Linked DNA regions of Homo sapiens. The protein of the gene in region 1 purifies or fractionates together with the protein of each later gene. This does not show direct contact. Each region holds a gene or a part of one and is shown on either strand. Other genes may lie near its edges. The genes, in order: SCLT1 and AKAP12.

Region 1 (3,824 bases):
GCAACATTAATGTATAGAGGTTGTCTCACCCAGTGATCAGTGGTCCATTGTTGAGACAGTTCAGGAAATATAATCCGTTTAACCTATGATAAAACAAGAAGTTTACAGAACTAGAAGTTTATAAAAAGTATTTCTAAGACATATAATGGAAAAATATAAAAGTAGATTTTATAATTTAGTAATATAGTCAGCTATTGTGTTAGTCCATGGAGTTTATTGATTAAGTAAAGGAGTTTTGGTTATTATCCGCTTCATCCTTTTTTTGTTGCTTCAGTTCATTTCCTTGAAGTTCTCCATACACAGTGATTCTTAATGTTAGTACAAATTTGAAAGAAGTCTCACATTGATTTTCTAGATAAGTGATAACAGTTCAATTCATCTGTTCTTAGTTAAAATTTGAATATATTTAAGTTGAATGTATTTGCCTGGTATAACATAACATTTTGAAACCACATAGTTTCAGTCTAAAGTGGAAAGAAATGGCTCAGAATAAAGCAAACAAAAGTCCATGTGATAAAATGTAGACAGACTTTTATCTTCTACTATAGATCATTAAGTTTAAGGATTCTTTTCATTTCGTTTTTTAATCAGCTCCTCAGAAGAAATATCACGTTACCAAGAAATGATTCAGAAACTTCAAAATGTATTGGAGTCTGAGAGAGAGAACTGTGGGCTTGTCAGTGAACAAAGGCTAAAACTTCAGCAAGAAAATAAACAGTTACGGAAAGAGACTGAGAGTTTAAGGAAGATTGCCCTGGAGGCTCAAAAAAAAGCCAAAGTAAAGGTATTTTCAAGACTAGAGTTAAATGTGTACTTATGAAAATCAAAGTATAGAGAATATTTAGAGAGACCTAGCAAAACATCTTTAAGGCCCCCTTTTTTTTTGCCTTCTCATCAGATAGCACTAAATCATAATTCAGAGTGTTAACCAATCATTTCTGTGTTGTAGAACTTGGCAGGCATACTTGAAAATGATTGCCTTTGCTACACACAAAAAAATTCTTTTCCAACCACGAAATATACTGATATTCCTGCCAAAGCAATTTAAGCAGCACTAGCAAAACCATGGATTAGATAACTTTACAGACTGCCTTCCTCTCTTCTCTCTCTGTAGTAGCCTTTGAAAAGTTGAACTTCTCTAAAACTAACTGTATAGAGGATGTTAAAGCAGTAGGCTCTGAGAACCATTCATAACTAGTCTGAAAATTCCATGGCAGGAAGAAGGCAAGAGGCAAAAATGTCATCTAAAACAAATTCCCTTTCTTTTCTCTCTTATTTCCTTCTCCTCTGATGCTTATATGGTTTGGTAATAGGAAGGTGATCCTCTTTTTAAGGGACTTTCAAGTAACACAATCTTCATCAACATCTTGCTTACCTTTCCCCATGTCATGAGACTTTTGTAAAAAGTGGCACTAACTTTTTATGATAAATATCTACATCTTCCAATTTCATAGTAAGAATATGAAGAGGTCATGTCACTGTTTTATTTTGGTTTTTATTGCTGCAAGGACTCCTAAGAAGTCATATTCCAACCTAATTCATGTCAACATAAATTTATTGAATGCCTCCTATTGCAGGTATGAAATGCCCTAGTTATTTGTAAAACCTTGAACTCCGAAATGAAAAAGAGAGTCTTATTTAAAAAGAAGTTTGTACTTTGACCTTTAGACTATGGGAGTTCTTTGAAGAACAAGGAGAGGACCCATACCGCCAGATATCAAGACTTGATAAAAAGCTAAAATAATTTAGACAATGTGTTATCAACATAAGAATAATCAACTTGATCAATGGCAAAAAATTGAGTCTAGAAACAAACTCATTTATCATAATCACTTGATTTATAACAAAGGCACCATTGCAGTTCAGTGGGGGGAAAACTGGCTTCACAAATGGTGCTAGATCAGTCAGATCCATATTTTAAAAATAAAACTTAACTCCTATATCACAGCATATATGCAAATTAGTTGGAGCTGCTTTGTAGACCTAAATGTGAAATGTGAAATGATAGTTTCTAGGAGAAAATCTTCTTGCCTTTGGGTTTGAAATATTTCTTAAACAGAGCACAAAAAAACACTAACCATGGTGAAAAATCCAAGCTGAACTGGATTTCACTAAAATTAAGATATTTTTAGTCACCAAAAGACACCATTAAGAAAGGGAAAAGTGGGAGAAAGTATTTGTAGTGCATATAACCAAAAAGAGAACTCATATCCAAAATATAAAAACTTTTACCAATTAATAAGAAAAATATTAATAAGGAAAAAACAGCTAATAGCTAATAAAGAAAAAAATAGATACTCCATTTCCAGAAAAGGCCAAAAGACTTAAGTAGGCACTTCATAAAATAGCATATAGGCAAATATGTTCAACTTCATTATTTTTTAGGAGAATTTAAATTAAAACTACAAGATAACACTACACACCACCAGAATGGCTAAAATTAAAAAGACTAAAAATATCAAGTATTTTTAAGAATATAAAGCAATTAGAACTTTGATAGATACTGCTGGGAATGTAGCATTATCTTTTAAAGCCAGACATACATACATCCTGATACGGTTTGGCTGTCTTCCTACCCAAATCTCATCTTGAATTGTAGTTGCATAATCCCAGTGTGTCATGGGAGGGACCCAGTGGGAGGTAATTGAATCATGGGGGCAGGTTTTCCCATGCTTTTATCTAAAGAGCTTTTAAAAATATAAGAGAAAACTATTTGTAACCGAATAAAAAATCATGTGAGAGTTGAACAGAATCTGCAATCTAAGAAAAAAAAACAGTAGGCAGTAAGCAGTTTAAACTCACCATTAATTAATTGCTAAGTATCTCTAAGTGAACGTGCAGCTAAAAGTATTAAATGGTACGTATTTACTTTAGAGTCTAAAATTCAGTCATAAGAAAGTAATTAAAATATTTCATAAATAAGTTCATTGCAGCATTATTTATAATAAATTAGAAACAACCTAAATATCTAGAAGTAAATATGTTACATCTATATGTATAGTAAAATTATGGAAAATACAAAACATTAAAAAAAATATATAAAGTCCCTCTACTCCCAAAACTCAGATAATACTTCTAACTTCTACATAATTGCTTTTATTTATGAATTTTAAAATTGTTACTATAGTGTATAAAGGATTACTACCTGTGTGTACACATATGTATTTTTGACATATAGTGTATATGTTTTTAATAAGATACTGTATTGTCATTAAAAACTATATTTCCAAATAATTTATAATGCATTTATATTGATACACCCTATGATTGAAAAATTTATGTGTATACACACATACATGTAGTAATCCTTTACATACTGTAATAACAATTTTAGAATTCATAAATAAAAACAATTATGTAGAAGTTAGAAGGGATTATCTGAGTTTTGGGAATAGAGGGACCTTATAGTTGTCTTTTTAATGCTTTGTATCTTCCATCATTTTATAATATATATTTGTTTTGTTTTCTTTTTTTTAATCATGGGTGGGGATGGAATCAATGAATTTTCCCTATCTAGTACTCCAGTTGATCCGTCTTTAACATTTCACTTTAATGCTTTGTTATTTTCCATAATTTTACAATATGTATTTGTTTTGCTTTCTTTTTTTTATAATGAGTGGGGATGGAATCAATGAATTTTTCCTATCTAGTACTCCACTAGATCCGTCTTTAACATTTCAGGATAGTAACTGATGTTATGGACAACAAAAGAGTAATAGAAAGTTTATCTACCCCACATATCTCACCAAATCTGTATCTAGCTTAAGAGAATAGCCATTGATAAAGAGCCGAACGTCTTAACTAACTAGCTATAATTCTATTTT
Region 2 (3,824 bases), on another chromosome or scaffold:
GCTCACGACTGTAATCCTAGCACTTTGGGAGGGTGAGGCAGGAGGATTTCTTGAGGCCAGGAGTTTGAGACCAGCCTGGGCAACATAGCAAGACCCCTGTCTGCAAAAAAATTTAACAATTAGCTCGGAGTAATGACATGTGCCTGTGGTCCCAGCAGCTATTCAGGAGACAGAGGCAGAGGCAGGCGATTTGCTTTAGCCCAGGAAGTCAAGGTTGCAGCAATCCATGATTGCACCACGGCATTCCAGCCTGGGTGACACAGCAAGGCTCTCTCAAAAAACAAAACAAAGATAGGGCTGGGCGTGGTGGCTCACACCTGTAATCCCAGCACTTTGGGAGGCCAAGGCGGGCGGATCACGAGGTCAGGAGATCGAGACCTCCTGGCTAACACGGTGAAAACCCATCTCTACTAAAAATACAAAAAATTAGCTGGGTATGGTGGCGGGCACCTGTAGTCCCAGCTACTCGGGAGGCTGAGGCAGGAGAATGGCGTGAACCTGGGAGGCGGAGCTTGCAGTGAGCCGAGATCGCGCCACTGCATTCCAGCCTGGATGACAGAGCGAGACTCCGTCTCAAGAAAACAAAACAAAACAAAACAAAAACCACAAAGATGGGGAGTTACTAGCAACTGCAAGTAACTAACACAGTGAGGGTCGGTCATTATATGCGCTGGAAAATTTTTAAAAATACTTGTTACTACTGCTAGGGGAAAAAAAATCCATTTTTTCTGAAAGAGCTATCATCAGCTATATTTCAGGCAGTTTAATATTAGCCCATTTGGGGGCACTAGTTTTTTTTGTTTGTTTTTTTTTTTTGAGACGGAGTCGTGAGGCACCACGCCCAGCCATTGGAGCACTAGTTATTTTTAAAAAAACTCAACAAGATAGTTGAGTGAACACAATGTATTTCTTATGCCTTTGGGTCAAACACGCACATGTGCACACACACATGCCGTTTTATTTTATTCTAAAGCAGTCACATTAGGAGGTAAAACGAAGTCGTTCTTTTCATAACATCGATAAGACTAAATGGCATTTCAATCACCAAAAACCATGAAACTATCCTAGATCTTTGAATCTAGTTGATAGTTATTTTCCTCAACTGAAGGTTCTACACGAAGGCATTAATTATTTGCTCCCGATTCCTTATGTAACAAATTTGCCATCTATTGGCATAAAAGAGAAAAATTATCTTAGAAGACAAGGAAGCTTACCTGCATGATGTTTTAAGATTCTGTAAGTTCTGACTTTGCAGATTCTCTCTCTTGTTTCTGTAACTCCTCCTGTGCTTGGGGTGTGATCGCTTTATCTGATTCACTGTGCACTTTTCCTTCCTGCAATTCTACTTCCTGGGCATCCTCCTTCTCTTTTTGTTTTGGTCCATTTGTATCTGGGGACTCTTTGGTTAAGCCTCCTGAGGCATCAGTATCAGCCAGGGCTGAGTTCTGGTTTTCAGGGTCATCAACATCATCACCTTTTTCATCTTCTTTCGGTTCAACTAGTGACTTCTCTATTCTTTCTGCTAACAAGGCATGACCATCATCTTCTGGCACAGACTTTGTTCCAGCTCCACCTCCCTCTTCCTCAGATGGGAGGACGACCTCTTCCAGCTGCTGATCATTTACAGTGGAACCTTCTACCTCAACAGTCATGGTCTTTTCTGAGGCTTCACTCATGTCTTTGGAAATATCAGAATGTGCTTGTCCCACTGCGGTTGACTCTGACTCCTCTTTGGCTGAAGTAATTGGTGTTTCATCCTGTGCAGAGGCCTGAGGTTCCTCTCCTTCTTTCTCCGTTTCCTGTCCAGCGTCCTGGCTGTCAGCTTTTATCACGTGAGCTTGTGTCTGTAACTCAGACGTCAACATTTCGGTGGCTGTTTCTTCTGTACGTACAAACTGGTCAACGGCTGTCTGGATGATGTTTTGGACAAGTTTACTGCTTTTGGTCTCAAGTTCCAAAATCCCATTTTCAGGCTCTAAATCCTCAATTGCTACACTCACTTTGACCTCCTGGCAAGCAACCTGCTCATCGACTTCATCTGACTTCCACTTCAGTGATGTGGTTTTCTCTCCTTCCAGGTCGGAACTTAAGCCTTTCTTGGTAGTAGCAGATACTATCACTGGTGTCGATTTTGCCTGACAGTCGGGCCCTGTGGGCACAGCATCTTCCCCTGGATGAGCGGCAAAGTCTTCATTTTTTTCAGAGGATTTCTCTTCCAGAACTAAATGTGCACCTGCAGGCTCCAACGTTTCACCTGTTTCTAAAATGTTGGCAGTTTCTCCTAAGACCTTTTCCTCCTCTGCAGCCGCTGTTAGAGTGAATGATGCCTCAGAGCTCTGAACTTGAATTTTGGTGCATACTGCCTCCTCTTGACCTAGGCAGGGAGGAGGGCTTCCTTCCAAACTGCTGACTTCCTTTGCCCCATCTATGATGGGCACATTCACTGTCTGGAGGAGCTGCTTACTGACCTCTTCAGATACGGTAACAGCTGTTTCGTGCTCAAGCTTCTCTTCATTCACATGGGTTGGCTCTGCTTCTGTTTTCTCCCTTTCGACTTGAACTACCATCTCTCTCTCCACGGGGGATGGAGGAGACTTAGCGTGACTCTGCAGTTCAAGAGCATCATCCTTTTTACATTCAGCTTCTTCTGTCCCTTCACCTTTAAGGGCAACTTCAGTGACCTTTTCCCGACTGACTGTTATGCCTGTGTCTATAGACCCCTCAAGTCCTTCGAAAAATGGTACGTCTTTGGTTTTCTCATCAGCATACTGGTCAGCCTCTTGAGTCCCCTCAGTCTTTGACAGAATGGATACAGTTTCCACTGACACCTCTTTATCTGTATGCTCTAGAGTGTCTTCCATCTTTGATTGTTCTTTAGTTTCTTCCTGGAACACAAAACTGGAAGGTGCTGGAGGCCTCTCTTTCTGTGCAGGAACTGCCTCTGCTTCTGTGCCCCCTGACTGGGTACCAGATGCGACCTCATTCTCCTCATGGATTTCCACAATCTCGTCTTTCTGGGTTGTGCCTGGTGCGTCAAAGTCGGCTACGGGGGTGCTTCCATCAGTCTCACTGTCTGTAGGGGTTTCCACCGAGTCAGGGGGGATAGCCTGTTCCATCACCATCTCCTGTGATTTTACCCCAGCTAAGGTTTCGGCTTGACAAGTGGTTACAAGCTCACTGGACTCTATGCTCTCTGTGACTTGAGGAGCTTTTTCAAAGCTTTCTGGGGTGGTCTGCCCCACCACCTTCCCTTGTGTAAAAGGCTCAGTTTTTGCCTCCTGAGCATCTACTTTCAACACTACATCCGTCTCTTTCTTCAGACCCGACGCTTCAGCCTGCTCTTCTGGTCTTTCTGCCTCTGCTCTCTGCACAGGCTGAAGCACATCTTCTGGCCCACCGGTGCCAGGCAGCTGGGATTCCTCTTTCACTTTTTCTGCCACTGCCTGGAGGACCTCTTGAGTCCGCCTCTCTTGCTCTTCTATGTCAGGTACGCCACCTTCCACCTCCTGCACCGGAGTGGCCTCCTCTGTGGTGTCTGGGGAGTCGGTTAACTGGGAGACTGCTGACACCATTTCTGTGGTCTCTTCAGCAGCAGATGCTTCGGTTCCTTCTTCGGCACCCAATGGCCCTGCAGTTTCTGCAGCTGTCACAGCTTCGGGGGTCAATTCCGCCTCACTAACGACCGTGTCGCCCCGGGCCTCTCTGTTCTCTGGCAGAGGTTCAGTAACCGTGGGGGGTTCTTCTTCTGCAATTACTTCTCTTTCCAATACCTCCTCAGTTAACAGTGCGGCTTCAGCTTCTACTTGTTCAAGAGGTTCTGTCAC

Evidence for each region.
Region 2: the proteins of SCLT1 (region 1) and AKAP12 purify together in Homo sapiens (affinity purification with mass spectrometry; one large-scale study listed by BioGRID and IntAct). This does not show direct contact.

The regions. Positions count from the first base shown.
Region 1 is NC_000004.12:128,939,956-128,943,779, reverse strand, and holds part of SCLT1 (sodium channel and clathrin linker 1), read left to right. Parts: intron 1-591; coding exon 592-784; intron 785-3,824. UniProt on the Homo sapiens protein: Adapter protein that links SCN10A to clathrin. Regulates SCN10A channel activity, possibly by promoting channel internalization.
Region 2 is NC_000006.12:151,351,143-151,354,966, reverse strand, and holds part of AKAP12 (A-kinase anchor protein 12), read right to left. Parts: coding exon 1,227-3,824; 3' UTR 1,215-1,226; intron 1-1,214. UniProt on the Homo sapiens protein: Anchoring protein that mediates the subcellular compartmentation of protein kinase A (PKA) and protein kinase C (PKC).